Linked DNA regions of Homo sapiens. The protein of the gene in region 1 purifies or fractionates together with the protein of each later gene. This does not show direct contact. Each region holds a gene or a part of one and is shown on either strand. Other genes may lie near its edges.

What was found.
Region 2: the proteins of RTF2 (region 1) and CTPS1 fractionate together in Homo sapiens (co-fractionation; one large-scale study listed by BioGRID). This does not show direct contact.

The regions. Positions count from the first base shown.
Region 1 is NC_000020.11:56,516,713-56,520,022, reverse strand, and holds the end of RTF2 (replication termination factor 2), read right to left. Parts: intron 3,089-3,310; coding exon 3,034-3,088; intron 2,918-3,033; coding exon 2,822-2,917; intron 1,937-2,821; coding exon 1,758-1,936; 3' UTR 574-1,757; downstream 1-573. UniProt on the Homo sapiens protein: Replication termination factor which is a component of the elongating replisome. Required for ATR pathway signaling upon DNA damage and has a positive activity during DNA replication.
Region 2 is NC_000001.11:41,007,143-41,010,790, forward strand, and holds part of CTPS1 (CTP synthase 1), read left to right. Parts: intron 1-306; coding exon 307-403; intron 404-1,516; coding exon 1,517-1,572; exon of another isoform or gene 1,573-1,651; coding exon 1,652-1,748; exon of another isoform or gene 1,749-1,753; intron 1,754-2,302; coding exon 2,303-2,447; intron 2,448-3,018; coding exon 3,019-3,103; 3' UTR 3,104-3,112; exon of another isoform or gene 3,113-3,116; intron 3,117-3,648. UniProt on the Homo sapiens protein: This enzyme is involved in the de novo synthesis of CTP, a precursor of DNA, RNA and phospholipids. Catalyzes the ATP-dependent amination of UTP to CTP with either L-glutamine or ammonia as a source of nitrogen.

The DNA.
Region 1 (3,310 bases):
TTTGAGATGCTGTAATTTTTGTGTTGAGGATGCTGTGACTCAGTTACCAGAAAAAACTGGACACAGTCAATACATTCAATGCAAAATAAAACTGATTCAGGCTAACATTCAGAAAACCGAACCTGGTAAAAATAATGGTCATTAAAAGAAAAGGGGGCCCAGGCAGCGTGGCTCACGCCTGTAATCCCAGCACTTTGGAAGGCCGAGGCGGGCAGATTGCTTGGTCCCAGAAGTTTAAGACCAGCCTGTGCAACATGGCGAAACCTCATCTCTACAAAAAATAGCAAAATTAGCCGGGTGCGGTAGTGCGCACCTATAATCCCAGCTACTCGGGAGGCTGAGGGGGGTGGATCACCTGAGCCCAGGAGGTCAAGGCTATGGTGAGCCATGATCATGCCACTGCACTCCAGCCTGGATGACAGAGTGAGACCCTGTTTCAAAATTTAAAAAAAAAAAAAAAAAAAAAGGGGGAAATAAAAACAATGAGAAAATGGTTGAGTTTGGCTGTATAGAAAATTGGGGAAATTAAATGGCTAATCCAGGTTTGTTCTGGAAAAGTCCATGACAAAAACGCATCACTTAATTTTTATTAAAATGCTCTATACTCACAATGTCAAAATATCCTTGGGGCCAAACCTTCCCATCAACTGTGAAGCCGGGAACCACACAGGGTTTGAGAAAAAGCAGGGCCACACATGGTTCTCCCTTGCTGGCCTCTCCCTGGAGTTCTGCCCACGTGTCTGTGTCTCCCACAGAACCTGCCTGTTCACCTCCCACCATTCACCTCCCACAGCTCCTTCTGCTTCTGAAGGAAACCCAGGGCCCCGGGGTCTGTATAGAGAACCAGTCACTATCTCAGTCATACCACCGTGTGCAGAAAGCCACGCAGAGGCCTGTGGCTCTTGGTTCTTCATTAGGAGTCTCATGAGAAGTTTCACTAGCTATTGACGTCAACACAACTTATAGGCAGATAAAATGCACCTCTTTTTGGGTACGATTCTCCCTTTACCATCTGCTGGAGGAGAGAAGGGTGGGTTCTTCTGACTTCATGGAATGACTCCTGTAATCACCAATGCAACGGCTGCAATGTTCTTACCCAAGCATGAGCAGAAGGTAGAAAAGATAAAAACACAGAGGAGAGAAGAGGCAGACCAGCTTTATTTTTGAACCCAATCACTGGGTGCCCAACTATGACTCTGCTATCTTCGAAATGATGAGATGGGGCACACTCCCCTAACAGTATTTAGCTAGACCAACAAGGATCCTGGCTCCTCCCAGGGCTGTAGCAGAGGGACGAGGCCCTTCGAAGCTTCTAGTGGGCACAGTGTATTTGAAATCCATCCTTTTTAAAGCCCAGTTTCACTTGGCCTACTTGATTTATTGCTGGTAGCAAGATCATTAGAATTTTAGTTAATTAATATGTGCCAACTCTGCACCGGTGAGGACTCTGGAGTCTCTTGTTACTGCAAGCATAAAAAGTGCAGCCCACAGGGCTTCCTGGCCATGGAAAGGACCAAATGCACCTGCAGGTGGAAGCAAGCATGACCTCGGGCCACTGTGCAGCCCCTCCCATGTCCCCCCTGGAACCGACACGCCTCACATCAAGAGTGGCCACACCAGCTTGAAGGCTGGCCAGGACAGCTTTATGACACAGAACTATAGAGAGAACACACAGCAGCGCACTCAGAGGCACAAAGCGACCTGCCTACGTGGAAACTAAACAACCTTCTGGGGCAGGAGCGGTGGCAGTGCGGGCTTCAGAAGCAGTAGGACGTGTGGGTGACCCAGTGGGCAGACTCCTCCTTGGAGCGCTTGGCGGAGCTGTGAGTGGTAAAGAGGGACTTGTAGGCCTCCGATTCTTCACTGTCAGCGATGGACCTCTTTGTGGCTCCACACGGAGGCTTCCCAGCTTTTCCAGAAGAGCTCTCATTCATTGCTAGAAAAATGAAGAGCCAAAACTGTCAGGGTTGGGATAAAGATGATTCTAAACTTCGCATCCTCAGAAGGGAAGCCCATCAGTCACTCTGTCCCAGACGTTCTCTTGCTGGCTGTGTGAGTGCTGGCGGACGTCATCTTAATTGCCAACTCCAGCAAAGCAGACACAGCACAACACATCTATCATTTACTGTCTTGCTCTGTCGCAGACACTGGTCCCAGCCCCGTGAATGACTTAGATTGTCCTGATGAGGCAGGGCCTGCGTTCCAGGGGAGGAAATGGGCACAGGAACCTGAGTGGCTGTCCCATGTAGAGCCGGGATGGGAGCCTGTCAGCCACCCTGGATGCTACTTAGAGCACAAGATCACACACTCTTAACAATGAATCTGTATTTTTCTTTTTGTGAAATAAATGGTATTTTCTTTGAGTTACAGAGAGTGAGTTTTAGGAGAAACTGATCCTTGGTCAAGAGGCAGCAGAGAGGGGACTCTGAGAGCCACACGTGGAGCCCATGAAAGCCCCAAGAGTAAAGAAACTGGGGGCATTCCCCGCAGGCCCTGAGCCACAGTCCATCTGACAGTCTCTGTGCAACATCTGAGCCAGTTCTCAGCGCAACCTCTTTTGCTTGGCACCAAGCACTTACTCGACAGGAATCTAAACAACCAGCATTTGTGCCCAGACCCCATCACTCCTGCCACGGCTCCTGATGAGGGTGTGTTCAATATTTCTTAGTTACCCCCCTAAAGAGAGTTCAGTGCACTCTCTAGAGACATGACATAGGACAGGCTTGGGCTTCCCATCCACCCACTCCAGTGAAACCTGGACTCGGCCACCTGGGTTTCCAGCCTTCTCGAAACAGCTCCCTGTAGCTACAACAGGACCCACCTGTGCTTTTGGGAGCCAAGTTGGTTTTCTTCTCTCTAGAATCAAGGCTGGCTTCTTCAGGCTTCCCTGTCTTAACTTTTGATGGCCCTGGGGCTTCTGTAAAAGAAACAAAGTAGGCAAAGCAAAAACAATGCAAAACAAAGCATGAACATATTAGCAGACTGCCCTAGAGTCGCATTTTGCTAAAATAAGGATCTCTTGAAGGATCTTACCTTCACTGACATCTGGTTTTGAAACAGACTCTGCTGCCTTGGGTTTCTTTGTTTTCTACAAAAAGATAGAGAATGTTGGAGGCTGTGCTCAGATTCACTCCACTTCAGCGTCAGTGTGGCTGCCCATTGTCCCGGGTGCCCTGTCTGACTGACCGATGCTAGTCACATGAGACAGACAGTCACTCTGAAGAAGGCTTTTGATGTTCCGTAACTCCTAAAGCCTTCACCCTCTGCATGTGACACCAGTCATGCACTTCTGCCTCACACAAAAATGTAT
Region 2 (3,648 bases), on another chromosome or scaffold:
ACTGTATCAGTCTTTCTAAGGAAGTGATGCTTACCGTCCACAGTGCTGGGGCGGGACTAGCCTGAGGAGGGGCTGCTGTGGTCCTGTCTGCAGATCAGGAGGACAGGCTGAAGGACGGAGCCTCCACCCAACCGAGGTTACAAATGCCAACTGGGAGGCATTTTCTTCTGTGACAAAATGTCTCATAAGGAAAGCCTGGAGAATTAGAGCTTACTTACAAGCCTTTGCCACCCACTCAGCGAGGGAGGTTTCTCTCTAGCGGAAGCAGAGTTCTGTAGTTGGTGTCTGTTTTCTGAACATCTCCAGGTCGTAGACATGCCAGAACACAACCCAGGGCAGATGGGCGGAACCATGAGGCTGGGCAAGAGGAGAACCCTGTTCCAGACCAAGAACTCAGTCATGAGTAAGAGCTGCCTCACGCTGGCCCAGCCTTTGGCTCTGCGTGCCCAGGACGCGTGTCTTAGGGTGATGCTGTGGCTTCGAGGAGCAGGCTGGCTTTTTTTGGTTTCGTTCTTGCTTTTGAAGTTCATTCTTTCCTCTCTTATTCATACCCTTTTAGGATGCACTGTGATAGCCATAGAAGCAGTGTGGGTCTTAGAAAGGACACTGGCAGTGCAGTCAGACTCCTAGGCATGGGCGCCTCAACAGAATGAGGCAGTGAGGTTACATTCATCCTTATCGGTTACTTTCCTATTAAGACCAGCCATATCAATTGCTGATGTTTGGCAATTTTTGTCACACAAAGATGGCAATTTCATATGATTCAGCCTAAGTAGATTCTGTTCTAATAAAGTACTAATAGATGCTGAAGGTTTAGGGTAGTTTTCGGAGGAAAATAGTTAAGAAAATGACTATTACACAGATTTCCTTCTTGTCTACTGGGAAAATTCTGCCTTTACTGTATTAGCAGAGGCACCCTTGTGTCTGTCTGGGCGTTCTGTAGCAGCATAGCTGGAGTCACTTGAGTATCGGATCTTTCTCTTACCAACTCTGATGTTCTGTGGATTTGGGGATCTCGAGGCAACTGTGAAATGAGTCAGTAGAGCAGCCCGTTCGCAAATGTCCAGCTTGTTCACATGCAGCCACTGAGGGCTGATGACCTTTGATGACCATGATTGGAACTGAATGATCATCAGAGGTCATCTGTGCAGCTCTTAAAATGCCTCCCATCCTGCCACGTTCCCAGGGCCTTGCCGTTTCGTACATCCTGATTTGCTTTCCAAGGCAGTTTTCTAGCAGCAAAGTGCCCATACTTTGCAATCATGTGTTTGAGGGTGGTGGTGAGAGTCTTGTTTCTGTTACAGCTTTCTGTAGTGTTGTCAGAAAGAGTCAAAAGCCCAAGAATTAGTCTAAACTGTGTTGTTAAGAGCAGGTGACCTTAGCAGATTCATAGAAATAGCCCTCAAAAGACCTGGCTGTGTGGATGATGAAAAGTAAAGCAGGAAGGAGGATGTCTTTGTGAACGCATCATCCTGTGAGATAAAGTTCTTTACATACAGCCCGTTTGTTTTGCCAGGGAAACTCTATGGAGACGCAGACTACTTGGAAGAGAGGCACCGCCACCGATTTGAGGTGAGGATTCCAGCTTGCTGGTACTCTGGAAAGATAGTGAGCTGAGAGACCAGCAGAATTATTTTTCATGCCTCAACAGGTGAATCCAGTCTGGAAAAAGTGTTTGGAAGAACAAGGCTTGAAGTTTGTTGGCCAAGATGTTGAAGGAGAGAGAATGGAAATTGTGGAGTTAGAAGGTGATTATTCGGGCAGTTTTATTTAATGGAAAACTTAGTAAAGTTTTCTTGGCATATGGGAAAATATAAAAATGTTATCTTGTTGCTCCTGACCTAACAGAATTAGGAAGCAGCACTGTCTCATGAGGGAAGGGGTCTTGATAAACATGGGGTCTGGACTCTAGAAACTTCTTTCTGGTACATGGCCTTCCTCGGGGAGCCATTTAACTTCTGGCCGCAGTTTCTCCTTCTCCAAAATGCTTGGAGTTGGTACTAAAGCCACTTCAGCCCTCTCCTGAACCGCAAGACTCAGTCTACAGAAATCCTGGGAGCCAGGGTCTTGGGCGGGACCCTGGACAGGAGGCCTTCAGCCAGGAGGGGACAGCACAAACCGTGCTGAGAAAGGGTATCAGATCACTCATGCTTTGAGGTTCCCTTTATCTAGATTCAAATGAGAAAGTCATTTTCAAATTATTTTAGGGCCTATGGAAACAAACATTTAAGCAGATTTTGTTCTTTTACACTTTGTGCATAACCTTCACAATGAAGCTGTTTCTTTTGAATCTCTATTTCAGATCATCCCTTTTTTGTTGGGGTTCAGTACCACCCTGAGTTCCTGTCCAGGCCTATCAAGCCCTCCCCACCATACTTTGGCCTCCTCCTGGCCTCTGTGGGGCGGCTCTCACATTACCTCCAGAAAGGCTGCAGGCTCTCACCCAGGTAGGCGCACTCTTTGCTTCAGTAATCCATTAGTCTTCTCTAGTCCTTTAGGTGGTCGCTGATTCATTACAGCAACACGTCACAGTCAGTCATAAGAAAAAAAAGCCACAGGCGCCTGGGGTGAAAGTTTCCTCTCCTTTCCCGGAGCTTTCTCACGGTGTTTCCCTGGCATATTGGCCAGGTCCCCCTTTCTGCAGCATCTGAGCTCTGGTGGTGCTGACCAGATCACACTTGGCGTAGGACCCTCTGGTCCATGTTAAGGGGAACTAGTTTTTCCTGGGAAGTAAGCCACAATGGGTAGGTTTATGTCCCATTGCCACCTTTATCCAGAACCAGTACTCAGAGTTGGTGGTAGGGTGTGTGACTGAAGTATAAATGGAATGTATATCTTTTGTAGCTAGAAGAAGGAAATCTTTCTGCAGTTTCATGTTAAATATATTATGTAGCAAACAGTCTTTGTGATTCCTGCCATGTGCAGGCAAGTGTCCCTGTAGGAACCGTGGTTACAAAAACAGGGACGTAAAGTGAGTTTTTGGTGGGAGATGATGCGTAAACCATCTGAATTCTACAGGGACACCTATAGTGACAGGAGTGGAAGCAGCTCCCCTGACTCTGAAATCACCGAACTGAAGTTTCCATCAATAAATCATGACTGATCTTGTAGCGTAAGTGGTACTTTAAAGTTTTAGTTTTTAAAAACATGGTGATAACACACTGCGATTGCAAGAATATCATGGAAGTTTAGGGCTGAAAATTTTTATCTGCCAGGAATGAAAGTGGTGAGGTCTTGAATATAATCCAGAGGTTGAGAGAGAAAAGAAAGTAGTGAGGTCATTGTGGGTATCAAATGGGCAGCCCTTCCTCCAAGTTGCAGTGCACCTCCCAGTCCTGCCCTGGGGATGACAGCTTGGGGAGCATGGTCACTGGGCAGTTGTCTCAATACTGATTACTACATTCTGGTGCCAGTCTGACCAGTTCTGGGGCGGGGAAGGGGAGGGTCTGAATTCTTAGACCCTATTGTTTGATGTAGCTGTAAATTTTGGAGATCTTGAAGGAAGGGACAGATACAACAATGTGGCACTTGTCATTTCTGCAGAGCCTCAGGTTTTCATCAGGAAGTACTTTAAAACTGACACTGCTTAGAGAACTTTTTTTTGTTGATTGCTGCTTATTCTGGAATTCCTTCAAAGTTGGAACAATT